5 separate regions of the Homo sapiens genome follow, and regions 2, 3, 4 and 5 are each linked to region 1. Evidence: fine-mapped expression QTL. A gene starts in region 1. Each other region holds a variant in brackets. All regions are shown on one strand. Distances are from middle to middle.

What was found. PIP is the estimated chance that this variant, and not a neighbour inherited with it, causes the effect.
Region 2: its variant is the best candidate, but not a certain one, in a credible set for the expression of AKAP6 in thyroid (GTEx, PIP 0.73).
Region 3: its variant is the best candidate, but not a certain one, in a credible set for the expression of AKAP6 in testis (GTEx, PIP 0.67).
Region 4: its variant is the best candidate, but not a certain one, in a credible set for the expression of AKAP6 in testis (GTEx, PIP 0.71).
Region 5: its variant is the best candidate, but not a certain one, in a credible set for the expression of AKAP6 in fibroblasts (GTEx, PIP 0.72).

What each region holds. Positions count from the first base shown.
Region 1 is chr14:32,325,709-32,331,918 of GRCh38, forward strand. AKAP6 (A-kinase anchoring protein 6) reads left to right here and starts at 3,590. Exons shown (of 14, transcript NM_004274.5): 1 at 3,590-3,700. RefSeq lists an enhancer at 5,555-5,849.
Region 2 is chr14:32,223,506-32,229,715 of GRCh38, forward strand. No RefSeq gene overlaps it. Among named protein-coding and RNA genes, the nearest start is that of RNU6-8, 23 kb to the left of the region's middle. The variant G/A (reference allele first, on the strand shown) is at 2,773.
Region 3 is chr14:32,688,477-32,694,686 of GRCh38, forward strand. All of the region lies in intron 8 of AKAP6 (A-kinase anchoring protein 6), which reads left to right. Among named protein-coding and RNA genes, the nearest start is that of NPAS3, 250 kb to the right of the region's middle. The variant C/T (reference allele first, on the strand shown) is at 3,446.
Region 4 is chr14:32,714,216-32,720,425 of GRCh38, forward strand. All of the region lies in intron 9 of AKAP6 (A-kinase anchoring protein 6), which reads left to right. Among named protein-coding and RNA genes, the nearest start is that of NPAS3, 220 kb to the right of the region's middle. The variant C/T (reference allele first, on the strand shown) is at 3,188.
Region 5 is chr14:32,656,183-32,662,392 of GRCh38, forward strand. All of the region lies in intron 7 of AKAP6 (A-kinase anchoring protein 6), which reads left to right. It overlaps LOC124903298 (a long non-coding RNA gene), which reads right to left and starts at 4,323. Exons shown (of 3, transcript XR_007064109.1): 1 at 4,235-4,323; 2 at 3,667-3,703; 3 at 335-423. RefSeq lists an enhancer at 1,126-1,195. The variant T/C (reference allele first, on the strand shown) is at 2,638.

The sequences.
Region 1 (6,210 bases):
CGAAAGCCAAAATTGATAAATGGGATCTAATCAAACTAAAGAGCTTCTGCACAGCAAAAGAAACTATCATCAGAGTGAACAGGCAACCTACAGAATGGGAGAAAATGTTTGCAGTCTACCCATCTGACAAAGGTCTAATATCCAGAATCTATAAGGGACTTAAACAAATTTACAAGAATAAAACAACCTCATCAAAAAGTGGGCAAAGGATATGAACAGACACTTCTCAAAAGAAGACATTTATGTGGCCAAAAAACATATGAAAGAAAAGCTCATCATCACTGGTCATTAGAGAAGTGCAAATCAAAACCACAATGAGATACCACCTCACGCCAGTTAGAATGGCAATTATTAAAAAGTCAGGAAACAACACATGCTGGAGAGCCTGTGGAGAAATAGGAACGCTTTTACATTGTTTTGGGGAGTGTAGATTAGTTCAACCATTGTGGAAGACAGTGTGGCGATTCCTCAAGGATCTAGAACCAGAAATAGTATTTGACCTAGCAATCCCATTACTGGGTATATACCCAAAGGATTATAAATCATTCTACTATAAAGACACATGCACATGTATGTTTATTGCAGCACTATTTACAATAGCAAAGACTTGGAACCAACCCAAATGCCCATCGATGATAGTCTGGATAAAGAAAATGTTGCACATGTACACCATGGAATACTATGCAGCCATAAAAAAGAATGAAGCTGGAAGCCATCATTCTCATCAGACTAACACAGGAACAGGAAATCAAACACTGCATGTTATCACTCATAAATGGGATTTGAACAATGAGACCACATGGACACAGGGAGGGGAACACCATACACCAGGGCCCTTCGGGGGGTTGTGGGCAAGGTGAGGGAGAGCATTAGGACAAATAGCGAATTCATGCAGGGCTTACAGCCTAGATGATGGGTTGATAGGTGCAGCAAACCACCATGGCACATGTATACCTATGTAACAAACCTGCATGTTCTGCACATGTATCCCAGGACTTAAAGTAATATAAAATAAAAAAAGAAAGTCTGCAATAAAGGAACATGTTTTTAACACTGTCACTTTATCATAAATAATGATATATAATATAATCTTGTTAGAAAATTTATATTTTATTAAATTATAATTTTATCTATAAATGGATAATTTGTTCAGAATAAACTACCCCAAAATCTTGGTGGTGTTTGTTTCTCACTCATTGCAGCCCAGTGTAGGTCAATAGGTAGTTGGGAGAGGATGGTTGAGCTCCATGCAGTCATTCAGGGACCCAGGCTCCATCCACAATGTGTGGCCATTATCTTTCTGGGCTTCAGAGTTCCACTGGATTCTTTGCATCCAGCTAGCAGGACAGGAAAACATGAAGAAGAGACACTTGGTCTTAGCCACCTTTGGAGTTGATGGTTTCCACTTCTACTTCCGTTTCATTGGTGAGTGCCATTTTGTGGGCAAGCAATTTAGCTAGTCCAGGTTGCTAAAAGTTTGACCTGGCCTCAGGTTTGATGAGCCATCCATTTCTTCCCATCAAATGATTGACTTGCTTCTGGCAAAAAAGATTAACAAGATTCTTACCATCTTGAGAAGCCATATTCAAATCTGGAACACCTGCTCCCACCCTGTCCTCTCCTCTTTATAGCATGTGGATTTCAGCTCTGGAAAGACTAATCTTGTTCTGTAATAGGTCCATGTCTCTTTATCTTCTCCAGAGACTGAAGGGTTCTTCAGAGGTATCTTAAAGAGTCAGCTTACAGCAAATGAGGTTGGAGGCAGTGGTTGAGAATGGCTCATCAGTCTGGGCTCTGGGCTTCTTATCTTGCCTCAACCAAGGCAGTCCAGCTTTGATCTGTATCATTAAAAGAAAGGTTATATTACTAATGAAAAACCTGAAAACTATGGTTATTAGCTAAATCAATCATCTCTGCAGATGAAAAACTTGAGGCCCCAAGAAGTTAATCAATTGGCCTGATATCACACAGATGCTCTAGGAGGACCTGACATTTACAGTTGGGTTTCCTGACTCTCAGATCTGTACTCTTTGTACTGGGGTAGCTGCCTGCTACTTCTCCCCTTGTGTGTGGCATGTGGTCTGAGGTCTAAGATAAAGGGAGGGAGTCAGGCTCTGCTGATGCCACAAAGGACCTAAGCAGGCAGATTCACCTCCTGCTTTTGGTCTCTTAATTCCTCTCTAGATGAAGCAAGAACAAGTCTGTCTTCCCATCTAGGGCAGGGTTGCTCTGTGCGAGGCTGATGGTGCACGCTGCTGGGATATTGGCACTTCTCAGGCATTTTATTAGCTCCTGTTTACAGAGACACTGCCTGAATTCCTTCTGCCACTCATCCCACACCGCCTATGCTGGTGGTTAACAGTGCCATTTTAAAATCTCAAGCAGGAGGAGACAACATAATTGTCTCATGTTTTAAGCTTTTGGAATGTTGTTCTTTTTCAGAGTTGTGAAGACGGAGTGGATACAGGTCAACTTGATTCTGCTTTTCTCTATCAATGGCCTGCAAATATTAAATATGCAAAACATAGGCTGCTCTGTCCATATCTCCTTCTCCCCAGTTCTCACCACATGACGTTGATTTCTGCTCAGGACTGGAAAGAAGTGATTGCTTTAGATTTGCTTTTCTTTTACCAACTGGAGAAATGCCTTACCGTGTCTTGTTTAAATGTGGCTTTTCACACAGTTCCAGCTTTTGGGGTTGGGGAGGGGCACAAATAATCTGTGTGGTAGGCAGTTTTATTGTTCAGAAAAGAAGAAAACAGACCCCAATGTTTGGAATGCCAACGATTTAGGAAGTTTCTAGCAGGTCTGCTACTTGTTCCAACCACTAGGTTTGATCCCAGAAAAGACTCACATGCGTTTTGGCCATGAGAAGGAGGGGTTCCCTGCAGGCCAAAGGAAGGGTCAGTAGAAGTTGAGGGTGGTGTGTTGTGCCCCTCTAGATTCCAAACTTCCCTTTGCTGCCTATCTGATGACCAGGTGAAAGCTGGGTTTATTCTGCATGGGAAGGTTCTGTGGGTTGGTGTTCATCAGGGAAAATAACCAGGACAGACTTCATTGGCCAAGGGTTTGCCCATGTTTTGAGAATTAAAACTTGTTTACTTGAGAGTTAGAGTCATTTGGTCAGCTGTTTATATTCCATTTTTAATTATTTTTGTGCTCGCTGTTTTGTTCTTTTGGTCTTTGACAGATGAGCAAAAATTCTTTTTAATAACTTTTAAAAAGCTATCCCAGTGCTGACCAGGGAGGAAAAAGTGATCAAATTGTCTAATAAGGAAACATTGTACATTTCAGTTTTTATTTGCTTAGTACTAATTCTATTTTCTCCTCCCACCTTTTTTTTCTAAATGTATAACAACAAAGGGGGAGATAATTTTTGTTTTTTCCAAAATGCTTTCAGGGAAATCCCTTTTAAACCTATGGATTTTAGTCCAATGAGGAATCCTCTTCCTTTGGTCTAAATTTTGCATATCGTCTGTTTCTTACAGGGCTTCCGTATTGTCTCAGGCTCCACTGGAAATGCAGCAAGGATTCCTAGCACATCCCAGTTGCCATAGCAACAGCAGTCTTTCCCATAATGAGCTGCATCATCTGAACTGATGTCACAGCATCATGCAGCAGGTCAAACAAGGCATCTCCTAGTATTGCATCCTACAGATGTGCTGTAAACATCAAAAGAAGACGGTGGGATCAGGAGATGGTGAGTGTTAAATGTCTGGGCCTTAATTGCACGGCTGTTTTGTTGGTTAGTCGGTGTCTGCTAAGGCGGAGATTGGGGGATGTTGTCTCTGCTTAAAATGGACTGGGGAAAGAAGGGCTGTTTTACCTAAATCGTTTTTCAGGCTGCCGGGTTAAGACAAAGGCCTGTAAGAGTCATATAGGAATTAAAATATGTAGAATTATTCTTGCTCCAGCTCTGTCTGTTATTTTTAAGTGTTCTTACAGAATTTTTCATAAACATAAGATGATTTTTCAATTGCAAAACCCCAGATAAGCTTTAAAATGAGTAGTTAACAGTATTTAAGCATTGTAAAAATATAGATTTCTTTTTGGGAGGCAGAGCTAATTGGCCCCCTCTTTGCTCTTGTGAATTATGAAATATTCAGTGATTTGCAGTATGAAATTCATTATTTACCTCGGTTGGGTTTCAGTTTCTTCATGGCAAGGAACAAATGCTGAATAAGCATTTGACATAACCCTGATGTGAAAGGGGATCTCTTGCATATTCAAGACAGAATTTATTAAAAGCATAAAAACCTAAACCAAATGAAATTATTTGAGCCTTTTGATCTATATGGTAGTTCTTCAACCCATGTCCTTCAGAGTTAGTTGAAAGACTGCCACATATTTTTCCATCTCTAGCTAGTCTCTGAAATAGCTGGAGTTGTTTGCAGGCTGACTTGTAACTGAGAAAGGAACAAGTCTCCTCTCTGCGGCAGTTGCAGTGAAGGGTAACCCTGGGAGAGCCTCTGAAGTGGCAGTGGTGTTGCCATCCCTTGCTTAACTTTAACAAAAATCTGGGTATGATGAATAAATATCAGGGTCCTCAGTGGTTGTAGGGATTACAGACCTCTGGACTCAGTCATAACCTCAACTCAATTCCAAAACTCTAAACACGTATCATTTTCATTTCAACTCCTAGCTCTGTTTTTAGGCATCTTTATTATTATTATTATTTTCTAAAAAATTAGTCTGACAGTGTCAGATAAGGAGCAGAATGTTGCCTTTTGTTTTGGGAAATGAAATGGATTTCCCTGGTACAGCTGATTGCTACTAGGGGAGAGAAAGGAGGAGGCACATGTCAGTTCAATTGATCAATATGTCCACTTAGAATCAGGGAGTGGTCTTGTGGCTTAATGCTGCCAAATTGATAGTTTTTACTCAAAAAGTCTTACACGAAAGAATGGCAACCATTGAATTCCTCTTCTTTTAGTCTGTTTATTGGGGCTAAAGAGATATATCATGGAAAGCAGGAAAAGCAATACCTTTAGCTAGCTTGGAGTGATTTTTTTTTTTTTTTTTTTTTTTTTTTTTTGCACAGAGTTAAGTATGCTAGTCCCATTAGGCACCAGCCAGAGGAAAGGCCTCAGGTTTTAATTTGTTTGTTTATACCACATCACGCACATGCTTGCTACTCTCAGTCCTTTAAGCTTATGTTTCTGACATGCAGCTGTATAGGATGGGAGAGGTCAGCTCAGCCTGGCTTTATCGCAAGCACTTAGAAGCATGAATTGTTCATTGCCTGCTTTTTTATGTCATATAATGTGAGCAGAAAGCTCTGCTGGGACTGCTGGGTGTGAACACATCTAAGTCGAAAGCTCTAAGGTGACAGGGAAGAGTGCTAGATGGTGATGGGGGAAGGGAAAGTATGTCTTGTAGCTAGATTATAAATCTGGATAAAATCACTTAGTGCCTTTTAGAATTTTCTTAAAGTATTATTTCTGAAGAAGAGCAATGAAGAAAGACTTGTTTGGTAACATGAATTTCTAGGAGTAAAAAAAAGCAAAAGGCAGCATTGTAATGAGTTTTCTGTTTGCTTAATTCTTGTCTCTTTTGTTTAAAGTGCTCTTCAGCTGCTTCATCATGGTTGATTTGTTCAATTACTGGAAGTCACAAAAGCTAGATTCCTTAAGGGCAGTGTTAGAAAAAGTGGAGTCATGCTTTGAGGGTGGGGAAGGGCGCTGGTGGGTGTGGACTGACGCAGTTATCTAGTGGAACATCCTCCCGGTTCAGACAACCCTGTAATTTTTCCCCCCGCAAATGTTCAAAATGCAATTACAGTTCTCCAACTTTATGCTTTTGTGCTCTTTTTGCTCCAGGAGAACAAAGCCCTGGTAATGAGAGCTATCATCCTAATGTTTTGTTTCTTCGTTTCTTTGTAGAGGGCCACAGCCTGCGCTGCTCTCTGATTAGCTGCATGTCTTAATTACTGGCTAAGGCTATTTCAGTTGTCTTAGTTTTAATATATCCCCAAGGGGTAGATGGTGTGTGTGTGTGTATAGGGGAAGGGAGAGATTTCTCTATGGCTGTATTTATTGGTGCCTCACTGAAACTTTCTACAGTTTAAGGAATTTTGTTTCACAGTAATGATAGATCATCAAGACCATGTTTATTGGACAGAGTTTAGGCCATGGAAGCCTCACAAGAAGTTAATGTCCTCTATACTTTTGGTCATGGCTTTCACAAATACATTACAAAGTTACAAAGAAG
Region 2 (6,210 bases), 100 kb before region 1:
CAGGGGCTATTTTTATTTTTTTTTATTTTATTTTTTTTTCCCAGGGGCTATTTTTATATGTCTTTGGAGACAGAGTCTCACTTTGTTGCCCAGGCTGGTTGGAGTGCAGTGGTGCGATCTTGGCTCACTACAACCTCTGACTCCCAGGCTCAGGGAATCCTTCCCACCTCAGCCTCCCGAGTACCTGGGACTACAGACACATACCACCATGCCTGGCTGATTTTTGTATTTTTTGTAGAGCCAGGGTTTTGCCATGTTGCCCAGGCTGGTCTCAAACTCCTAGGCTTAAGCCATCTGCCTGCCTCAGCCTCCCAAAGTGCTGGGATTACAGTTATGAGCCTCCATGCCCCTCCATGGGCTATTTTTCAGAGTGTTAGAAGATGACTAGTAGCATGTGGGCATAGGGAATGGGAGCGAACCATCTTCTCTAAAAGGCTGATGGGAGAAATTAGTTCTTACTGACCAAATGATCAAGTCAGAGACTCATAGAGCTTCAGTGATGGATGGAGCTTTAGCAAACAACTCCCTAATTGTGCAGATGAGAAACTGAGGCTCCAAGAGATTTGTCCAAGGCCACTTGGGAATAGACAGAGTAGAATTCCAAACCATATCTTCAGAGTCTAACTTTATGCCATACTATGTGAAATTGCGTTTATTTTTTCAAGGTTTCTAGTTCAGTCCTGCATTTGATATGGCCAAATGAGTCTTGTGCTTTGTTTTCTTAAGAAAGAAAATATTATTTTCTTGTTAGCAGTCATACCAGAAGCTCACAAGTGGTTTACACACCAGATAATAAACTCCTATTCGTGGTCTGAGAGAAAGGTTGAAAAAAATTTATGTAAAATATAAAAGGTAAAAAACATAAATATCCCAACCCATTAGTGGATCCAGTTCTTATTAACATTCCTTTTTCCTGCTACATCTCTTTATTTTTATGATGTCTTTGGGCTTCCCAGAGTGAACGATGATTTGTCTTGAACAAAATAGAATTGTTCTTGAATCCTGCTGGTGTAAACGGTAATCTAAATAAATGGAAATAGATATAAGTCCCAGGAGTAAATCAGACTGCTTGCTTAAAAAAGCAAGCACATAAGTCAATATTTTTTTTCTGATAGTAAGAAAAATTCACAGAGCTGAAACTCTATCTCCTTACCCACATGTAGACCTTACTCAAGCTATTTTTTCATTTATTTATTTGTAGAAAGATAGGTTTTCTCTTTTCTTCCTTCTCTTTATTATCACTAATTTTTGGGAGAGGTCTTTGGTAAGTTGAAAACTGACACACTTTTGCACATGAAAGGGGGCATTACTGATTATGCTGCTACAAAGTTATGGGACTGTCAGATCAGAACATTTAGTCACAGACTATACCTATACATCCTCCCGGACCTCATGGACATAACTGAGAGGTTAGGCCTTTGCTCATTCAAAAACAGTTATTCAAGCACAGATGCATCTGCCACTGCATTAGGCACTGAGAATGTAAAGCCGACAGCTTCTATGTTAGTACCATATGAGCTATTCTTTCTTCAGCCTAGACTTTCATAACATGGAAAAGTAAGGCAAAACCTTCAGAGCCGAGTCCACCAGTTATGATTCTGCTTAGCAGGGCTTGTGCATATATGGCTTCCACCTGGTCTTGCCCCCCTGGTGGTGGCTGCACACGCTGAAGCATGATGAGTCAGAGCCGTGTGATTTTGTTCTGCCTCTGCCCTGCATAGGCTGGTTTTAATCAAACGAAAGCCTAATCCTGTAGTGAATCTTATTAAGCCCTTTGCCCTTCCCCATTCCATCTGTTACATGTCTCAATTTCTGTCCCCCAAATGGAATAAGCTGTGTTTTTTTTCTCAGATTTTTTTTTTTCTTTTTGTGTTTGATGTCTTTCAGAGATAGGCCTGGAGTCAACAATTACAATCAAGCTGAATTGAGTCTGGCAGAGGATTTTCAGTATCCCAAGTTACTTTCAATGCTCCACTTGTCTTATCAGCAAAGCCTCTTATTTTCAAATCTAGTATACTGGGAAGCTCTGCAGTTGGTTTCACAGGCTTTCCTGCCAGGACCACAATTACTGTCTCCCCAGGGTTTAAATACTGACAGAGCCTTGGGGCATGCAGTTATGGTGCCATTTTCTTGGATCAATAGGTATATGTCCTTCCTAGCCCTGCTATAGAACTCAGGTAACTGCTGGCAGGTGGATCACAGTCTTGCCTTAGTGGGTCTTTCTTATCTTTTTGATCTATTGCCTAGTTTGTCTTACTAACCGTATCATTCACACACATCATAACCAACTTAATTTGAAAATAGGCCTCCAGGTCTCTGTCCAGGGAATAGCAAAAGAGTACAGACAAATCTTCCCCAAGGCACATATTTCTGTTTATTGTAGTTTCTCTTCTTGACAGGTAAGAAGAGATAAGGTTTTACTCTAGAGGAATGAAAAATACATAAAAGGTGTTGATGATATGGCAAGTTCCAAATTTGGTTCTCTTTCAGCAATCACAGCCCCTGACATCTGGACTCTCTTCCTCTCTTGTTTTCTATTGGTGTTAATGCCTGTTTCTTTCCTTTGTAAGGTTCCTTGAGGGGAGTGTTCTTGTGTCTCTGTCATCTTTAAAGCTCTTCCTCATGCTGGTGCTAAGTACATTGTTTTCCACAGATAAGATAATTGAATGTTTCTAAACTCAGTACATATCTTTGGTCTGTAAATCAGTAGTTCCTTTATTTGATGCTTCCTTATACTGAAAGACTCACTGAAAGGTTCTTAGATGGAATGCA[G/A]TATAACCACTTGAGTGTTAACCACTCAAATGTCCTTTGAGCAATAAGGCCTTGCCAGAAAGTCTGGAAAATATGAAAGTCACTCCATGTGCAGTTCTGTGGGGTTTTTCTGTTACCCTCGGAGCAGAATCTTCAGTCCTCTAAAGATGCAGGTAAAACATGGAATTGGTGCCACATCTAATCTTTTCACTGTCATGCTTACTGCTGTTGCTAATATATACACACAACCCCACTTTGCAATGGATGGTAGGAAAGGTATCTTAGACCCAGGAACACTCAGCCAAACTGGGGCCTGGGACCTGCCTTAACAGGAGCATCTGACAACCTGGGTTGTTGGCTCCCAAATCAAATTAGGCTAGTATGTGTCCCATCGTGAACTGGATGGGGATCAATCAGGACTAACAAAAAGCAAAGAAAATAAGACGTAGGACAATTTGCCACTTGATTCTACATTCTATTCCTAATAAGTTAGTGTTTCAACCCAGCTGTAGCTTGCTTTCTACCCTATTTGACACTTTCATATTGTTTCTCTCTATTAATAGTCATTGGGCTTCTTGTCAGCTTGGGATTATTATGTTTCATTACTGTTTCTGGATAAAACTCCGGTTGCTGGGAATTCTATTTGTGTTGTGTTTGAGAGCAATACAAATTTCTGCTTCACTGATGGAGATGGTGAGAGATGGGCCATTATGAACAAATGAAGATAGTGCAGCATTAGGGAACTTCAAATGAGTTTCCAAGTACATAAGATATATGCAAAAATGTATTATAGCCACTTTCTCTATTTGGAAAGTCAACTCCCTCTTTTTTAGGTCTGGGTGTTAAGAAACTTGAGATAGTATTTCATGTATTTATGTAGTGAAAGCCATGAATTTGGTGGGCAAAGAGGTGTCATAAAGGACCAAGTCTGCATGGACATGCAGTGTCCCTGCACAAAGCCCATCTCTAGTCACCCAAGTATGTGCCCCTTCCCTCAGTCAGTCAGGAGGAAGGGGAGACTTTTTGTTATTTGCCCAGAGTGGTTGCCTTTTTTCAACGGTAGTAATATTAAGCCTACCAAGAAGAAGGAAAACTACCACCAAGATCTTTGTCTCCATTATCAAGGCACATTCCCGAATCAGCAAAGACACAGAATACAGCCCTTTGATTCCAGATAGGTGGTCTTTGCCTAGCTCCATCATTTTGTTCTGTCATGAGGAGCAATTCAGGAATGCTGGCTATTAAATTTCTTCTGGATGGCTCTTGCCTCCACGCCCTTTTTGGGGCCTCATAATTTTACACTTAAAAATCCTGGCCAGACGCAGTGGCTCACACCTGTAATCCCAGAACTTTGGGAGGCCAAGGCGGGCAGATCACGAGGTCAGGAGTTCAAGACCAGCCTGACCAACATGCTGAAACCTCGTCACTATTAAAAACAACAAAAAAAAAATTAGCCAGGCATGGTGGCACGTGCCTGTAATCCCAGCTACTCAGGAGGCTGAGGCAGGAGAATCGCTTGAACCCGGGAGGCGGAGGTTGCAGTGAGCAGAAATCAAGCCACTGCACTCCAGCCTGGGTGACAGGGAGACCCCGTCTCAAAAAAAAAAAAAAATTCTTATTCAGCCCTGACTGATACCAAACAAAATATACCTACTAAATGCAGAGTTTCTAGTTCCTGAGAATCCCTGGTGATTGATGCCAATTGTAGTGCTTTCAGCAACAGCTGAGAAAGCCAACAGAAACCTAGAGAGTTTTTAATGTAAGCTTAAACAGCCAGGTGAGGCTATGTTGGAAGGCTCTCTTGAAGTATACAGATTGCGAGGAGATATGTGGGCTCTGGATTGACAGGGAAGTTTTATTCTGGTAAAACTGTATATAGGCTCAAGCCAGTTTAGTCAAGGACAGGTCGTTTCCTAGTGTAACTTGAACTTAGGTTTGAGGAAGGGAGCTAAATTTCAGGAACTTGAACTTTTAAACTCAAGTTTAAGAAAAGCAATGAGATTGCATACTCTTTAGACATGGACCTACTCATTAAGTTTCTTTGCAGCTACTAAGATAGTGTTTTACCCTTGGTGGACACTCAATAAATAATAAACTGGATTGAGTTTTCTGAAGGTAAGAAGCAAGTTGGTGGAGAGTTCTGATTCTGGTATCTTTCAGTCGCTTTCCTCTCTACAATTCTGTGATTCTAGCAAGGCCAGGAGGCAGCAGGTTTGAGAATAGGAAAGAGATTCAGTGTGGCTGAAACATGGAATGTGAAGGAATTCTGATGAGAGATGAGGCTGGAGAGGTATATGAAAGCCAACTTATTATTATTATTATTTGAGATGGAGTCTTACTCTGTTGCCCAGGCTGGAGTGCAGTGGCACAATCGTGGCTCACTGCAACCTCTACCTCCTGAGTTCAAGCAATTCTACTGCTTCAGCTTCCTGAGTAGCTGGGACCACAGGCGTGCACCACCATGCCCAGCTAATTTTTTTTTTTTTTTTTTTGAGATGGAGTCTCACTTTGTTGCCCAGGCTGGAGTGCAGTGGTGTGATCTTGGCTCAGTGCAACCTCCGCCTCCCGGGTTCAAGCGATTCTCCTGCATCAGCCTCCTGAGTGGCTGGGATTACAGACATATGCCACCATGCCCGGCTAATTTTTTTGTATTTTTAATAGAGATGGGGTTTCACCATGTTGGTCAGGCTGATCTTGAACTCCTGACCTTGTGATCTGCCTGCCTTGGCCTCCCAAAGTGCTGGGATTACAGGCGTGAGCCACCGTGCCTGGCTGCTAATTTTTTTTAATTTTTAGTAGAGATGGGGTTTCACCATGATGGCCAGGCTGGTCTCGAACTCCTGACCTCAAGCCATCCGCCCACCTCGGCCTCCCAAAGTGTTGGGATTACAGGCATGAGCAACCACACCCAGCCTGAAAGCCAACTTGTACAGGTCTCTTCAGTTGGTGAAGGCATTTGGGCTTCACCCTAAAACAGAGCGGAGTAACAGAAGGGTTTTTAGCAAGGGGTGTGACATGCTAAGATATATATGTTATAAAGATTACTGGGCTTAATGTAAAGAATGGATTGGAAGACAGGTAAGGGCGCTGTTATTGCAATTTGGGGAAATGAGGATTTTGGCCTGAACTAGGCTAGTGAGTGGAGAAAAGTAGATGGATTCAAGAGAGGGAATTGGCAGGATGTGAGGAAGTTTGGGTGAGGAGGAGCAAAGGGTGAAGCATGATTCCCAGGTCTTTGATTTGGGCAGTGATGGAGTGTGGTGCCATCAATAAGACAGGGACCATAGAAAGAAATGGGTGAGGAAAGGTGGTAGAGAAAACAGTGGGTTCAGTTTTCTACAGTTGGAGTTTGAGGAGCTTGTGGGACATCCTAGAGATGTGTAGGTGGCAGTTGGATGAATGGACCTGAAGTTCTGAAGAGAGCTATCAATTGAAGTACAAATTTGGGAGTTTATGATG
Region 3 (6,210 bases), 360 kb after region 1:
ATGTATGTCCTCAAGAAGGGCTATGATTTGGCTATGAGCTATCCATACCCAAAGAATAAAATGAAATTTTATCTATCAGAGAATTCATAGTGTCCTATGATTAAAAATAAATCTATATCAGATGACGCACAACTTCTTATGCTGTTGAGACCTGAGAGGAATTTCTCCTGTAGTTCTTTAAGGCAGAGACAGGTGTCTGTGATACTACACCCGTGCAAGAGAAGTCAAATCCCCAAAGCAGTTTTTTGGTGTAGGCTGCAGAAGTGATGTCAAAGCACAATTCAGTAAGAACAGTTCTGTAAGTAACTAAAATCTTGTAGTCCAAGCATAGCACTCTCTGGGTAGGGTCAGCCTGAATAAAGGATAACTTTTCATGTTAATTGTGCTACCAGGCTTTTGTTAGGATTGGGCAACAGACAATTATTTACAGGTTGTTGATATATTGCCTATTACATCTTGGAAAACTAGTGAGGCCTAGAATAGGGTAATCCTTTTATGAAATGGTGAACTGCCCAACTCACACCAGTGTGCCATTAGGTTTGGATCCATTCCCCTCTTAACACACAAATGATAACATAGGACGGTTTATCTTTTAAAAAAATCATCTCTTTGTCTTTTGAAGTACATTTTTCCATTTGTTCTTCCAACTACTGATTTAAAAATTCTTCAGAATGTTTTCTGTTTCCCTGGCTAGAACTTAGTCCAGCATATTATCTAAAAATTTGGATGAGCCTTTGACTTCCTGATAGTGTAACAGAATCCTCTAAATACACCCAGAAATCTACACTGATGTTTCTAATGTTATAGATTATCTCGTTGGTTAGAATTTTTAATGGATTATCTTGGTGCTTTATGCTTTTTATTTCAATAATAGGTGTTGGTGGACAGATGGTCCACGAGAAAGTGGGGCCAGTTATTAACAAGTTTGTAGGCTTGATTTTATTTTTCTTAGACCTGTTCACATGTACGTAGGTATATATAAAAACTGAGGAAATTACTGCTAGAAAGAACTCCATATTCCTTTTATTTATTAATGGCAAAGGCAGGCTGCTTTTCTCATGAGGAAGTTGCTCATGAATTTTCATTCAAAATAGTAAATTAGTGTCCACACTTTCATATGTTTAGAGTGGAAAGGGATTGTACATGCAACTGTGCATATCAGATTCCATGTCTGGAAAGCTACATTTTATTCTTTGATGATATTATGGTTGGAGATATAACAGGCACCACTATTATATCTCCCTTCTGTGCTTATATGACACATGGAGTAGAGGATGATGGGAAATTCTGATCTATTATTAGTATTTTACTTCAGTAAAATACTTAAACTATATTTTTGCAAGATTTTGTTACCACTCCTTTACGTGTCTTTTTTGAAAGCCAGAGGCAAACTTTCCTAGGCAAATAATGTGAACAGCGAACACTTAGTGAATATTTGGGGAAGGAATCAATATGCTAAAGAAGCTAGGAAAATTGGATCATTTAATAGAACTCCCAATATAGACAGGTGGTATTTCAGGAACCAGTCTGGTGTTTTTAGATGTCCTAGTGTGAATTAATATTAAGCATACAAAAGATGTATTCTTAAGTGCCCCAAAATACACACACACACACACACACACACACACACACACACACACACACGATTACTCAGCCTTAAGTAGAAAACCTGTGAGGACTTTTAGTGTTATATATTTTTTTCAACCAATAATTGCTCTATTTTGATGATTTCTTAATTTGGTTGTCTGTTTTCATCAAAATTCCTTAGTGAGCCCAGTTGAAACCTCATATATTCACACACACACACCTCCCATTGATTTCACTTGGGTGAAACTTTATCGTTTAAGCAAAGTTTAAGTTGAAATGTTGAGTTAATGATGCTCACTTTAAATACCAAAGGCTGAATGCATTTATGTATTCAAACACTTAGCTAGTCAAATATAACTCCCATCAGGGTTTAGAGGAAGGATTATTTCTTAAACTATGCTGGCCTCACAAGTAATATATTACCATCAAATCTGCAGAAAAATGATACTAAATAAGGTTGTTAGTATTTTTTTATTTATAAAAGCCCTGGAATCTTTTTTAACCTTAAATAAGGCAAAGTAAAATGGTGGGTAAGATGTTATGAAATACTTAGAGCAATTACCCATAGTGCTTCAACCCAAACTTAAAAATAAACACTAAAGAAAAATTTCGCACATCTATTTCTCTATAGCCTTGTCTGTTTAGATGCTTAAACTATAAAACAAATACATTTATAGTTCTATATTTGTCTAAGAAAAACTGACTTCAAGTTAGAAGACTTTTTCTCCCCATAACATGATTAAGCTACCTACATCAGAATGTCCAACTCCTTTATTGTGAACCCATTTAAGATCAAGTGTATGGCAAGTTAAATAAGAAATATCAAAAAGAATACATTTTGGTTAAATGTTTGCTTTATAACACTTTCATAGAGTATATATGAGTTTGCTTTATAACACTTTCATAGAAAATGTAACATATTCATAGAGTATTACAATGGTATCCTAACAGGCCTTTTAACATCTAGGAGCTCACAAATGAGAGTGAATGCATTGACATAAACCCAAGCATAATTACAAAGAAAATTTTATGAGGAAAGTCCCTCCAAAAGGGACTCATAGTTCTTATATTTGTATTCCTATAAGATTATAAGCTACTCACCACAATTTTAATCACCTCTCTCCCTTCAAAAGAGAGAGATGAGAGCAGTTGTCATGAGAAATTCAAGAGAAGATCCTGGTTCTGAATTCAGCTGATAGAATCAGCATATTCTCCAAGGGAATATAGAACTGTTAACTAGTTCTCCCCTACCCTTGATAAATTCATTTGTTCATGATCTTCTCTGTTTTCCTGCAGAGTAGCTGGAGCTTTTCCTGGAGCACATTGTCTTTTATAAAATCACTCAAAAAACACACCTTTGCAGCTAATATAAATGTAAGAAAGTGAACTCTTTCCTTACTTAAGAAGTTTCCTATAATACTGGGGACATTAAATTGTGGTCATTTCAGAATCTTTCAAAAGCACCTACAAAGAAATTCAATAATTTATTTCTGATTTGCCACTGTTTTTTTTTGAGACAGAGTCTTGCTGTGTCGCCCAGGCTGGAGTACAATGCCATGACCTCAGCTCACTGCAACCTTTGCCTCCTGGGTTCAAGCAATTCACCTGCCTCAGCCTCCCAAGTAGCTGGGTCTACAAGCATGTGCCACCATGCCTGGCTGATTTTTGTATTTTTAATAGAGACGGGGTTTCACCATGTTGGCCAGGCTAGTCTCAAACTCCTGACCTCAGGTGATCTATCTGCCTGGGCCTCCCAAAGTGCTGGGATTACAGGTGTGAGCCACTGTGCCTGGCTTTGATTTGCCACTGTTATATGTTTGATTTCACTAAATGTGGAAAAATCTCAGGTCTTTTCCAA[C/T]TTGTGGATTAACACATGGCCAAGAATCTGAAATCAGGCACAAATACTTTTAAGAAAAAAGTTTTTGTCTTCTGTTTTGAGACTTTGTGAGAATTTGTTGTTTAGCACATTGGTGCTCATTGGGTACCAATGAAACAAAATGTGGTACCAAGGCATTTACTGTATCTAACAAATCAAGTATCAAGTCTAAATATTCTCAGCTAGGATGAAAACAAACTAGACTGGATAAAGGGTGAGTATCTGTATTAGGTTCATTTGCTACTTGCAGGTCTCCAGTGTAGACTGTTTGAGAAAAAGTCTTAAGTGACTTTTGTTCGAAGGCCCATGATAAGGAGAATAATAGAAGGAAACAGTTCAATAGATATAAATGCATGCTAAAAAGCCAGTGAAAAAATTCCCATGCTTCAGAACATTTTATTATTTTATATATTTTTTAATTTATTTGAAAACTATTCATTAATAATTTTCATGTTCATAAACCTTTATCTTTCACTATAAAAAGAGGAGGAGGTGAAAGGAAGGGGAAGGCAATTAACATTGATTTAACATCTACTACATATAATCATTTTAAGTAAGTGAATTTACCATTTTAATATAGTAAAAACAAAATCTCACGTAAAGAATGAGTAAAGCAGCCTGTTCATGTTGCACTGGTTGTATTGGTATTGGTCTTTGGCGATGAGATACTGTTGTGTCTGCTGACACATGCTGCTTTTCTGAAGTCATTCTTGCCCCACTGAAGGTTTTTGTTTTCTTTATCTAGATTCATTTATCATCATTCACCAGGGACTATGCTGGACACTGAGGATGCAAAGATAATAAATTTATCTCTTGCCCTTGAATTTCTTAGTCATAATCAAAATTTCTTTTTCAGTGGTGCACATGTATGAAAAAGAAACAAGCTTCTTTCTTTTGTCTTGCCAATTGATCATTTTTATGAGGCACCCTACACTCACACTTTCCTAGAAAAGCAAGAAAAATACTTGCTTTAAGATCAGAGTTCAGGCTCTTAGACACATTATAGCCTCTCTAATAAATTAACATTCTCTTTAGGAAATACTCTCTTGGGATCAATACTCTGTTTTTCAGATTTTCTATTTGTCTCCATTCTTTTCTCCAAGATGACATCTGAGCATATAGGGATTTACATGATCTTGTAATTCTGGGGTGCAGTGGAGTCCCCTGGCTTAACACAGTGCTTAGGTACAGTCTGGCTGGGCTTATTGAAATGGGTCTTGTCAAGGATATTATGAGGCTTCCTCCCACAGAGGGCTGTAGCTGGTCTAGCTTATGTTGTTACCTCTTGGCTTGGTCAGGGACCGGTGGTATTTCTTGCTGACTAAGCCTCAACTCAGCCCTCACTGACCCTGCCAACTCTCTGTGGTCTGGATTGAGAGGCCCACCTGGCTCTCCTTTTGTTGGGGAGAGGCCGTCATTGTGCCTTTGTTGTCATGGCAATGCCTCTGTCAAGTTCACCAGCTGACCTCTCAAGAACCCTGGAGTCTCTTCTTGGGAGAATGAGAGAACAACAGAGCAAAGAGAATTCTAACCGAAGATCTCTCTCTGTCTACAACATCCCCACTCCAGGTTATTGTGGGGACAATATATGAGGCAATTTCCTCGCAGAGTTCTGACCTGGAAATGAAGTTGACATCCTTATGCTTTGGGCTTTTTTCTCAACCTGTCTCACATGCCTCCTTTCTAGGTCTTAGGCCAGGAGAGAGGAGAACACACATCTGAGCACCTGCTCCTCCTGCCTTATTTTTTATTCTCCAAATCCTCTGACGTGGAAAGGGTGAGCTTTCTCTTCCTTTCCCCTTTGCTTTAATAATCCCTTGAATCAGATACTCTTCTAATTTTGTGGGTGGCATTCCACTTTTTCTGTCTGTATGATTAAAATATAGGAGGGTGCAAGGAGAGAGAAATAGGGACTGTAATTCAGGAAGTATTTCTAAATGGTTATACCTCTCAAGGAAATGTTTATTAGTTATTCCTTATTAGTCACAGAGTCAATAAAGAAAACCAGATGGTTTATTTTTTATTTGTCTCTTTTATAGTGGTCGGGTTTTGTTTTGTTTTAGTCTTTCGAAATGGGATACTAGTTCAGATTTCACATATATGCTGGAGGTCTTTGCTACTCAGAAAGTGTGGTCCATGGGGCCAGGCGCGGTGGCTCATGCCTGTAATCCCAGCACTTTGGGAGGCCGAGGTGGGCGGATCATGAGGTCAGGAGATCGACACCATCCTGGCTAACAAGGTGAAACCCCTTCTCCACCAAAAATACAAAAAATTAGCCGAGCGTGGTGGTGGGCGCCTGTAGTCCCAGCTACTCGGGAGGCTGAGGCAGGAGAATGGTGTGAACCCGGGAGGCGGAGCTTGCAGTAGGCAGAGATTGTGCCACTGCACTTCAGCCTGGATAACAGAGTGAGACTCCGTCTCAAAAAAAAAAACAAAAAAAAGCGTGGTCCATGGACCAGCAGTGTTGCCAACACTTGTTAGAAATGAAGAATCTCAAGCCCCACCCTAGAACAGTTACTGAATCAATATCTTCATAACAAGATGATCAGTTTCACCGTATGTGCATTGTAGTTTCAGAAACACTGCTCTAGGCCACCATAGCCTTACTAAAGGTTTTAACTACATCAACTATAACCGTCATTGGCATCCAGTAAACATTTATTAATAAACTCCACATGTTAGCCAATGTTGATGCTTGCCCTTGGGTGCTTATAGTTCTAATCAAGGATCTTTATAGTTATGATAAA
Region 4 (6,210 bases), 390 kb after region 1:
CATCAAAGATCACTGGTCACAGATCATCATAACAGATAAAATAATAATGAAAAATTTGAAATATTGACCAAATTACTAAAATGTAACGCAGAGATACAAAATGAGCACATGCTATGGAAAAATTGTGCCAATAGCCTTGCTTGACACAGGGTTGTCACAAACCTTCCATTTGTAAACATTGTAGTATCTGTAAGGCATAATAAAACCAAGTATGCCTGTATTTTTTTTAAAGTACCATAAAAAGTGTATAATTTCTAAATACTACACTGCTTTTGGTTCATTTCAGACCATAAAAACATAAATATATATTTTATGAAACTTCTTAGACACTTTCCTTTTCCTTTTACTTTTTTTCAGTGGCAGATAACTTCCATTGGATTCTCTGCAGTGTCTTTTGCTGCCTGTAATGGAAATTCAGCTTTCTCTTTGACGTCTTATTTTCCACACATTTTAATTTTTCTACCTTCTTCTTTAGGCAGAATTACCAAATGCCCCTCAGTTTTTTTCACAGCATGGAACAGATATATTCACTTACATTTCCATTGAAACTAAGTCATTTCATAATATATGAGCAACCTTTTCTTACCTTCTGCTTGTATTGTGGTACACACATTGGTAGTTTATACAGTATTTGAATTGTCACATTGGATGTCATGGCAAATATGACTAAAGACATTTAGCTGTCTATGAGGAAAGGACCTGAATAGTCCCTAAGGCATTTTGGTAAAGAACAGACTCACGTTTGAATTCGAAGTCTACACCCTGGGAGACCTAGTGACAGGCAATCACTCTAATTTCAAATTCCCTACTGGGGAGGCTTCTCTGGAGAGCTATATGGTCGAAGGCAGATTCATATTTGCTTGAGGAAAAAATGATTACAAATTTTTCTACCTTGCAAACTGTACTAATTGGCGTCAAATTCAACTAACAATTTATGAAGTTTGCATCACTTTCTGTGTGTTTAAGCACAAAGACATTTTTCACCTGAATTCTCTTATTTTATCACATATATTTTGAAAATTACATATGTCCATCTAATACATATATCAGGAATTAATGGTCTAATTATTTTACTTTTACTTAAAAGGAATAAGGAATGATGTTATCTCATTTTAGTGACTGTGAGGATGAGACAATAAGAATTCATTAGGATACTATGGTGTGCTGTGGAGAACCAAATAAAGGGAGGTTATCCTTTTCCTTAAGTAATTTATAATCTACTTAGAAAAGCAAAACGAAAAAACATGAAATAATAGCAAAGATAGCAAATTTATGTGGTATGAAAAATAAGTGCTAGTCTTCTTAGAAAGTCCTCATGGAATAAATGATATTTGAACTGAACCTTACTGGATAGAATTTAAATAACTGGAATAGAGATAGATGCATTGCAAAATAATGCATTTTAGGGGGAAAAAAACCTCAGATCTAGGAAATAGCTTGGCATGTTCCTAGGATTTTACCAAAAACAGGAAGACAAACTGGAGAAGAGGAAAATCAGTGACAAACCATATAGCTTTTATCCCATGTGTTCAGTGAAAGTCAATAAAAGGAAAGATTTTTTTTTAAAATTCTAGTGAATTCCTAGATTCAATGTTTCATATAGTGAAGAGAAGTTATATATACAAATAAGGAATTAGTGGCATAAAAGAGATGAGAAAAGTTATGCCAGAGATCATATTTTCTTAGCATGCAACTCTGCATGCTAAGAAAATTTTGAACAAACATTTGTATATGGTCTTTACTATGTAACAGAAATTGTTCTAGGATCTTTGCAGATACTGGCTTATCCAATCCTCACAGCAACCTAATGAAGTATTAACAGTATTCTCAAATGAGCAACTAAGGCACAGGGAAGCACACAGCTAGTAAGCAATGCAAGCAAAGTTTAAATATGGGCAGTCTGATTCCAGGCATATATTTAATTTTTTTAATTTTCTTAATCAATAGCCTTTTATCTCATTGATTTACAAATTAAAATGTTTGGCATGGTTTCTGTCACCATGTTTATGTTTAATCACTCATGAGCGATTAAATGGTTACATATGTATAGGTTTTAAGAAGTAGTATTAATAGGTAATATCAACAAGCTCCCTCCTCCCTTCATTAAGAGTCAAGAAAAATAGTAAAACTTTGTCACTGTATATATATATGCACTGTATGTATTACGTACTATATCCTATTAGGCTGGTGCAAAAGTAATTGGGATTTTGCCATTGCTTTTAATGGCAAAAACCACAATTACATTTAGTATATACTATAGTATACACTATGTATTTAGTATATGCTATAGTATACACTATGTATTTAGTATATACTACATATATACTATATACTATGTACTCTCTCTAAATATGTATATATTCCTGTCTTTTAGAAAATACATAATATATATAATTATATATTATCTACATTATATAATGTATATTAATTATATATTATATGGTATACATTATCTATCTATCTATCTATCTATCTATCTATCTATCTGTATTTACCTTTCTAATGACTTCACCCTGATGTGTGATTTCTTTTACTCTCTAATATGGCCAATCTCTAATAACAATAGTTACAATACATTATTTCTAAGACAGAAAATAAAAACCATGGGAAATTTGCAGTCTTGCTTTCACATCGGTAGCAAACCAAAAAATCTTATTACAAAACTCATCTGTGTTAAAATCAAAGACTTCTTATTAATGGTGTATTTTATATCGGGATCTAAAATTTCTTACAAGTATGATCTATTTACCTCTTAAAATACCTGTGTTAGACAAGTGGCAAAGATAGCTTTGTCCCTGTTTTGCAGATGGGATGACCATGGAAATATGAAATGACCTTCCCTGGAGCAGGTGGATCAGGTGGATCAGGTGGCAAGCCACCAAGAGAACAAAGGCAGAAGTAACAGTTGCAGGATTGATGGTGCCCAGTGAAGGTGCTTAGGGAAAATTCTCAAAAATCACATGTTTTGGTACTCACATCTTCTTGAAAAGTTATCCCTTGTTGTGGCTATAAGCTGTGCTAAATGGCCACATCCTTGTACTTCTGCTTCTTTTGGTTCTAATATCCTCTTAATGAATTTTTTTCAGCCTTTATGCAAAATGTTTAAGTCATCAACATCATATTCTGTCATCTGTTTATTTCAGGGAAGCCATTCACTAAGACCTTTTCTCCAGCTGTAATTTGCTTC[C/T]TTTTCTGCAATGCTGTTTATTTTTATGTAGTTTTTAGGATTTATTCCCTGTAGACTAGGAATTGTTTTTCCTATCTGGTGAAACCTTTGTAACTTCCCCTATTTACTTATTAACTTTCTCTCCATGCATCTATGCATCTCCATCATTACATTCTCCAAATTTTCACTTCTTCCTCCTCTTTACTTTTATCACTCTTGTCTCTTATCACACACACACACACACACACACACACATTCTGTTTCTCTTCGATGTAAGAGAAACTTCTTTGAATATTTATAGCAGACTCCTTTACATAGCTGAAAAAGTGCTCAAAAGCAGTTATAACCAAGGTTTGTTCTCTATGGTCTTAGTTTATACCAACAAATTTCCACTTGTACCCTAGAGCTTCTTTAAACTGTGAACTGTCATTCTTCTGAGTGACAGGCATGACCATCAGTGAGAACTCTCCTATCTGCCCTTTTAGCCTCAACCTCAGGCTATTAAAAATCTGTTGGGTTTTTGAGGATGAGCCTACGCCAAATGAATCTGGCTAAAGAGGTTCAAGAGTAGGGTTCTTAAGTATGTGTTGGCCACTCCATTGTCACTTTGTATGGCATTCTTGACTTTATTTACATTATACTCTTAGGGCCCACCAATTTCTTCAGACTTCTGGACTGAGATCTAAAGATGTATTTTCAAGAGCAGTAGTATGGCTTACCAAGCTAAGCTGAAATTCCTCCTGAAATTCTATTTGTGGATTTTAGTACAATCTTACTGACCTTGGGCAAGTCACTTAGCTTCTATGTATCAATTTTTTATCTGTAAGACAGAAGTAATATTACTAACTTTCCCCATGGGCTTGCCATAGGAGAACAGCAAAAAAAAGAACAATCCATTGAAATGACAGTCAAGCTTTCTGAGGCTGCAGCAGCAGCGTTTAAGCCTTAAAGCCTAAAATCTCTAAAATTTATTTTGTCAAAATATTTTTCTGACAAATATGGGTAGGTACCCAAAAGAAACAAAAAGGCCCAAGGGGTCAGGGGATGGGTAGAACAGAATGGTTTTTAAGCCTGTAGCATACTGGTATCGGAACTAAAAATTAGACTTAGCCTTTCGCATTCTGATCAAATGTTCTTGCTATGAGAAAACACTGCCTCATAAAAGGTGCCCTTAAAATATTCAAAGAACTACTGCCACCTTCCTCTTTTCTTTGATAGGTTTTCACAGAAGCTTTTCTTGTGTTAACCGTTCATGGCCATGATAAACAATTAACTTTGTTCATGGTTTCTGTCTGAAAATTGAGAATAATATTCCTGTATTGGATGTTTCACCAAATAAGTTTTTCACAGAAAATGAAGCTCAAAGATAAAGCAATCACACTGTACTCATTTCTGTGTACTAACACTGTATCTGGCATATATTTCAACAGCTCTCTATATCTGCCTGGACTTTCTTTTGGGAGAAATTCAAATGAATAAATATTTTCCAACAACCTCCTACATTTAAACCATAATGCTAAGAATTACAGTGGGTAAAGAGTGAATGACATGTGGTCTCTGACCTCCTACAGTCCCTTGTAGAAGCTTATAATCTAATTCTGAAACCATACTTATCCTCATCTGAAGTGAAGGCACCAGAGATATTCTTAAAAAGTAGCATAAGAAATCAGATATTTTCACTATACAGGGATTTGAGCAGTCACCAAGAAAAACTCCATAGCATTATGGATCTGTTAAGATTATAGATGTGAAAACCCTTTGAAAATTAAAAATACTCTGCCAAAAAAAAAGTCACAATGTGAATACATAAAGGTATAATGGCACTTGCATTGTGTTTTGGGAACAGGCAACCCTGGAAATGCTTTGATCAGCTCTGTCTTAACACCTACCATCGCATGGTAAATTCTGGGTGCAGCCTCTCAGTGCTGGAGTCCTTAGTCCTTGGGGAATGCCCATTTGCATGAAACTTGAAAAGATAGTTTTTTGATGATGACAGTAAGGGCGATAATACATTCAGCCTTTATTTAGGCAACTGATTCTCATAGATTTCAAAAGTCACCATGTTCTGCAGCAACACCTTTTTGATAAACTACAATGGTTACAGTGTTCTACTTCTCATTTTTCTTCTTATCCTCAGAGAGAAAGCAAGATATCTCTTTGAGGAAATATCAACAGAGTTAACATAAGAAATATATAGTTTCTTCCTTATGAAATTAATTTGGCATTATTTTTGAGGTGTGGAGCATCTTGGCAACTGCTTTGGTTTAAAACTCTATGTGATTTGGGAAAAGCACGTTTCAGAATGTTTAATTCAGTGATACAAAAGGCACTAATGAAATATGCATGTATGAATTTTATATCATATTAGTTCCCTCTTTCTTGAAATCTGAATAAAAGCCAAACATCTGGATTATGTTTGAAAAGCCTGAATTTCCAATTTTCAGAGAGATCCAGTCTATTTTGACATTGCACACTTAGCCTTCACATTTACAGTGTGCTATTAACATTACTTGCAATTGTAGAAAAAAAAAAGTCCAGATTTAAACAAACTTGGTGCCTCCTAATGCTAAAAATAAATCTATATTTGAAATGGCTGCTGCTGCTGCACAACCATACACATCCATAGTTCAGGCTTCTTCAGCATTTTCATTATAAATACTTGCACTGAACAGGCCTATAATTCAGCTATAAAGATATGTGGTAACCTATGATACATAAATTCTCCTTTGATTGTATATTAAAACAACAAACAGCAATTCATACATCACTTAGTTTGAGAAACTATTCACTGACTCAAGGCTTTCTGAGGGTCTCAAATATTCAAGATACTCTGTGGTCAACTAAAGAAGACATAGCCACCATCTTTTAAAGTTTATTCTTCAAATTTACAAGGCAAATAACATTTATGTTTTTATAGATATTTGGGTATATTTTAGCACCTAGACTAAAGGCAAGTGAATATTTATGGTTTTAGTAGCTTAGAGATGTAAATATGCATATCATTGCTTTATCTCATTTCATTATCATAGTTAACTTAGGAGATA
Region 5 (6,210 bases), 330 kb after region 1:
TATGACTATAAAGATATATTAAACATAAACATAAATCTTTCTGTTTTATGTGACTTTTATTATCTGCCCATCAAATTTAGTTAATTATCAAAGGTGACTCTATTTAATGAAAGCTGTGTCCCAACAAAACCTATTTTCTTCTCCCACAGTGATCTACAAAGAAGTTATGAGATTAGGTACAGAGTATTTTGCTCACTTTCATGACCACTGCCTGTAGTATGAGAAATAGAAGACAGTGGTTTCTCTCCTTCTTAGCAGTTCTCCAGATTTACTCTGAATAAGCATCACCTGGGAGTGCCAGCCAAAACTGACTCACCTGGGAAACTAAGATTTATTCAGTCCTCACTGGGCCTGGGAATCTGCATTTTAGTGAACCCACCAGCTGATTCTGAAGCTGGTAATCTGAAGACTACTTTCTGAGACCTAGAATGAAGGGGAATACATACGTTTAGTGTAGAGCAATCTTTCGCTCATAGGCAATTGTTTTAAATATTATTGACAGTTAAGTAAATGCCTGTGTTTATACCCAGTTAAGTAAATGGCTCAGTAGTTGATGCTATTGTTCCACTCCTACATCTCTGAAGGACTTCTCTAAGGAAGGCCCTATGAACTTAAAACCTACAAGGAAGTTCGTGAGGGTTTGTCACATGTTTATAAAGCAGGGTTCTATGCTTCTTAAAGCCCTGGCTGTAAATATGCTTCTCTCTGTTTATCCTGCTTATACCTTTCCTGAGTGAAAGCCCAACTGAATTTAATTAGCAGAGCATAAATAGTACTGACATATGGCAATCCAATATATGGAATTTTGTCATAATACAGTTTATAGAATAGGGGAAGAATTTGATAAAGACTCCACAAATTCACGTAAACAGAACTGAGAGGTGTCCTTGCACCTATTTACAGGGTACTGCCCTCAGCGCAGATCCAGAAGAATGGCCAGATCCTGCATGATCTCCTGGGAGCCCTGGCTCTGATTTGACATAGGGAAAAAGGTCAAGAAAATCACTGTAACTTGGGGTATGGCTTTGCAAACCCAAGAAACATTCATTTCCCCATTTGTTAGTTGAAAAGGAGTACAGAGAAGATGCTGACTCATGCTGACCCTGTAGTGGCTGTGATGAAATAACCCGTGGCAGGAACAAGAAGAGAGAAGCGCAACCCTCGGTAGAGTCAATGGAAGCAATTCCAATGTTAGTAACAGCTTAAAGCAGCAAATGAGCCTACAAATCTGTGAGTGCTGCTCCCTAGCTCTTTTTCTCTCATTACACCAACATTTACCACAATGGACCTAATTTTTGAGATTTTCAGTTTAGATTTAAACGAAAGCTCATGAGATCCAGGACACTTTTTGTCATGGTCTTTCAGATTTCTCTGTGTCTAAATATTGCCTTATATCCAGCACGGGCTTACTAGAGACTTTGTTGTTTTTAATTTTGATCTATCTGCAGTATTATGATTGTTTTTCTTAATGCTTAATCAGGAAGGATATGATTACTTTTTCTGTGAGTGTACATGTTTTTAAAAGCTCACCATTTTTTTTTTTACCATAATTTTATCATGTCTTGGGATAAAAGAATACAATGATCTGCTACATGGATACCATTTCTACAGTACTTCTATTCCATATAATGATGATGCTGTTTTCATTAAAGTAATAAAAAAAATCTATACAGCATATGAGCAGGATTTGAAAGTTGGCACATCTAATTATCATAGTAAGGAAAGAACATGAATGCCAATTTTATATTTAACAAAAGTCATCCTTAATTGTTGGTGGTCGCACACATGGTAGATTGACAATAAAGAACTAGTCTAGCACATTTGGATCTTAAACATAAAACAAGGCAACGTAGATTGTTTTAAAAATGAAGTTTGTGCTAGTCTGAGACCTCAGGTATTAAATGTCTTCAGAAACTGGTGCTTTCTTTGATCCCTGAGAAAGATAAGAAGAGGTTAGGAGGTAGATGGTCACATAGATAATGCTACTCTATATAGTGATTGATTTATTACATATAAGGAAGACGACAGTCTATGGGGATTTTTCAAGCCAAAAGTCTCCTGCCTTGCAAATGATCATTGAGAGATTACAATGTAACTCCTGTTTAAAATGTGAAAGCTGTTGGCTCTATAATTTCTAAAGAGCATCCTTTTTTATTTTAATGATGTTTTCACTCATATTGTACATATCTCCCTGTTTAATATTCTAAATTTGATGTGTACTTCAGAAGTGATCACTGTTTTGTGATTTACAACCTTGGAGAAAAATAACATAGTAGTCATAACTTTGCAGTTTTTTGTGATGCATGAAGATCAGATTTTTTAATGTTGGTTAATGCTTTGCTAATTAAAGTATGCATGTTAATTAAAGCAGAGGCTAATGTTAATTACCTATATTAATGGAATCTCATGTAGCACCTGCCTGAAGCAATGGGTTCAATTTTCAAAATATCTCAATTAAGGCTGAAACTTTTGATTTGCATCTAGTAGGGTTTCAATTAACTGCATTGAAAACTTAAATAACACTCTTAGGGGTGCAAAATATCAGTGATTATATGAAGCACAGTGGAGTTTGGTAGGTTCATTTTTAAAGTCTTCTTTAAAAAAAAAAAAAAAGCCTAACTATATTTCTTTCTTGTT[T/C]ACTGGCCAAAATTCTGTTTACTCACCAAGACCCAGTGAAAACACCACTTCTTCCATTAAGTATTTTCCAATTCTCAACCAACTACCAGAGCTTCAGTTTGTTGTTCTTATTTATTTTATATTATTCTGTTTTGTATTATAGTTAGTTGTTAGAATTTGTGTCCTTTGCTAACTAGAAGCACCTTGTCTTTATCACTTACAAAGACAAGCACATTTGACAAGACACTAGCATGTTTTGTAAGTTGAAGACACTCTTTAAATGTCTGTAAAACCAGTAAGTACATTTATTGACTAAAGTGGATATGAGTGAACTTTTAGCACACGATGATTCCGCTGTTGCTACATTCATGGCTGCTCCAAGTAAAACATGAAGCTGCTGTTTGAGATCTTATTGCTTTTCAAATAAAAGATTGGCGTTTTCATTAATTTCTGTTAAATCTAAGCTGGAATGGGGAAGAAGTTACCTGTTCAAGTAAAAATAGTGTTATGAAACCAAAGAACATGTGTTTGTGCTGTCAGGGATGATGTTAACATCCTCTTTTGGTCCTAGATTTGTATTCTGACTGTACTGCAAGCAGATCTGCCTTGTGACCATAAGCACAAATACTTTAAACAAGCTGTCCATCTAAGAGAGCCATCAAGGGTTGGTGTTATTTCGGAAGATAAGACATGGAGTCATCACGTGGTGACAGCTCAAATCTTAAAATAATTAATTAAAAATATAGATTACTGGAGACAAGTACATTGTAATTAGTATGGATATCAGTTTTCCTGAACTTATTTTTATGTTTGCCAAAGTCCCAATAACAACCATTCCCACTGGGCCTTTGGAAGGGATTATGAGCTAATGGTACTAACCTTTTCGACATCTAGCATAATGATGGTTTCAGAAAAATAGTTTCCATAATTGAAGGGAGCAATAATCTCCTCAATAAGTATATACAAATAGATTACACACTGATTTACAGTCCCTGGAAATCTGCATTGATAACTGCTGTGCCTTGGCAGACTTTGACTCTGATAACTTACCATCAGTCTCAGAGGGCTAAGATTTGTCTTCATTCAGCTGTAGAGAATAACAAACAAACATAAGATTTCCATGTATAAGGTGTAACCGACAAGGTGACACAAAAGACACATAACTGCTTACTGTACTGATGTGCTATTGGCATGCTGGTTAAAAAAAATATATATATAAAGAAAGGTAAAAGGGAATCGTATTGATTGGACAAGAAGATGTTAGCTGTTGTCTTAATGGCAGAACCTATGATAGCTGGAAATAAGACGTGAATGTGTCCATTAATGAAGAGTGATGCAGGTTTAGATTTGGTAGTGAGAGCTCACATATTTCATGTCACACCGGTTTAACATTGGCTAGTTAGTAGATGGAATAAATGCAACAACCAGTTGGAGGAATGTGACAGATGTGCATATCAGACTTTCCAGGATGAGGCAATGGGCCAGGTCTTTATAACTTGAAGAGCAAAGTCACCAAAGCAGCCTTTCCCCATTGTGCCACCATTAAGGTAGCAGATGGCAGAGCATTAGCAAAAAGAAATTGAGAACAGCTGGACAACATCTGGTAGGAAGTGACAACCTAATGGGTATGCTGGGTTGTTCCTAATTGTGGGCAATCACTCAAAAAGCCTGGAAAGAAACTTCAATGTGTTGGTTGGTGGGAGGAAGAAGTTCGTCAGAGCAATAAATTCTAGTTCAGGAATTTGAGGGAATTCTGAAAAGAAGTGACTTTAGAGCCTGGCCAAATGAATTATGGAACATTCATTTGTTTCCCCCCAGGTTCTAAATAAGAACAAACTTTTTAAAGGAGTTTGTGAGGCCTATCTGGACCTGGAATCTACTTTAGGTAGATATTCGATTCATGAATACTATTTAAAACGTGAGATTCTGAGAGTATATGGAAAGGTTAGATGTTCACAGAGAATATGGAAATGCTAATTAAACTGGGGTGAGGGAAGTGGAGTATTTAACAACTCAATTCACCATTCCTGTTTCTTAATTTACTATCTTATGGCTTTTCTGGGACCTAGATAAAATTTAAAAAGCTTTTTGGCTATTTCTAGCTCTATATATTTTCTTCCCCGCCACCCCCCCCCCTCCCAATTCCAGCCATTTGTCCTTGTGTGTCTATATCTCATTGCTCCCTCTCCTGCTTTCTCACAAGGATCACCTAACTTTTCATGACCTCTCTATCTTTCAAGACTCAGCACTGGGAGAGTAACATTTCATTTTGGGAAATGTAGAGAAATAGTGACAAATAGGTAGAAAGGAGGTCAGAAGGAACAGGGATAGTGTCTCCAGAAAGGAATAGTAGGAAGTCAAAATGCAGAGAAGCCAAGGGCTCAACATGTGCTGCAACTCCAGCCCTAAATTTCTAAATTACTACAGGACCTCCTATAAATCCTACATATCAGTAAATCGTGATAATTGTATAATAATAAATCCTGCTGCTGATTGGGAACTAGCAATCAGAATTGGAAAGGAAAAATTCTCACAATGAGGCTTCATTGCTTACCACACCCTGGATATTTAAAGGGAAGGAGTGACAAAGCGGTTGCATGGTAAGCTATAACAGGGCACGGTAATCAGAGTGTGCAGACAAGGAATGCACGATTGTGCACACTGCCAAAGGTGCAGAATCAGTGTCATTCCTGGAGGCAGTGGGAGCAGAGAGTTTCGATTAAGTCCAAGACTCATAAGACAAGTACATTGGGCCTTGCAGAAAGTGACCCAAGTACATACCTTACTCAGTAGACTTGATGCCATACCCCGGCTCTTTTAGTTGTCCATGTCTGTGCTGGCAGCCTCAGTCAGGGACTAGCTAGAGACTGGAAATCATGGTTTCAGGACTACTGGTTAGAGGCAATACCTAGGATGGTGAGTAGAAAAGCACTGGAGTTGGAGCCAGAAACCCCTGGTTCTTCTTCTCATTATCTATGTGACTTTGGACAAAGTAATTTATTTGACCTCTGGCTTCTGCATCTGCTAAATGGGGATAATGACACCTGATCTACCTGTGCATAGCACAAGGTTGTTGGGATTATCAAATGAGATAATATACATGAAATCACAAGTTATGAAAGTATGAATGTTATTATCAAAGTATCAATATCCTATTACCAAGTGATTCCTGATCAAGCAGAATATGACTCTCAATGATGATTTAAGCATTTATCTAGGTACCTAGTGAACAGTGAACTGAAGTAGGTGAACCCAGGATTACCACAGCCAATGAATCTGTTAATTTGCATACTCTTGCAAATAAAAGGACAAAATCAATACTTCTTTCATAGTATAATAGATTATTTGGAATGAAACTATAAAATATAAATAATTATGTAAAATATAAAATTTTATAGTTCTCTTTAAATATCCTGTAAAATGGCAGAGAGGTTCATTTTGGGCATGGGATTCTGACTAACAGTAGAATGTTTGTCATTTTAAAAAAATACACTTCTCTCTTAGGACTGACTCTCAAGCTGTGAAGTAGCAGATTGCCAATATAAAACATGACTTCATTTCTCACTGTTGTCTTTTATTCTGACACATTTCATT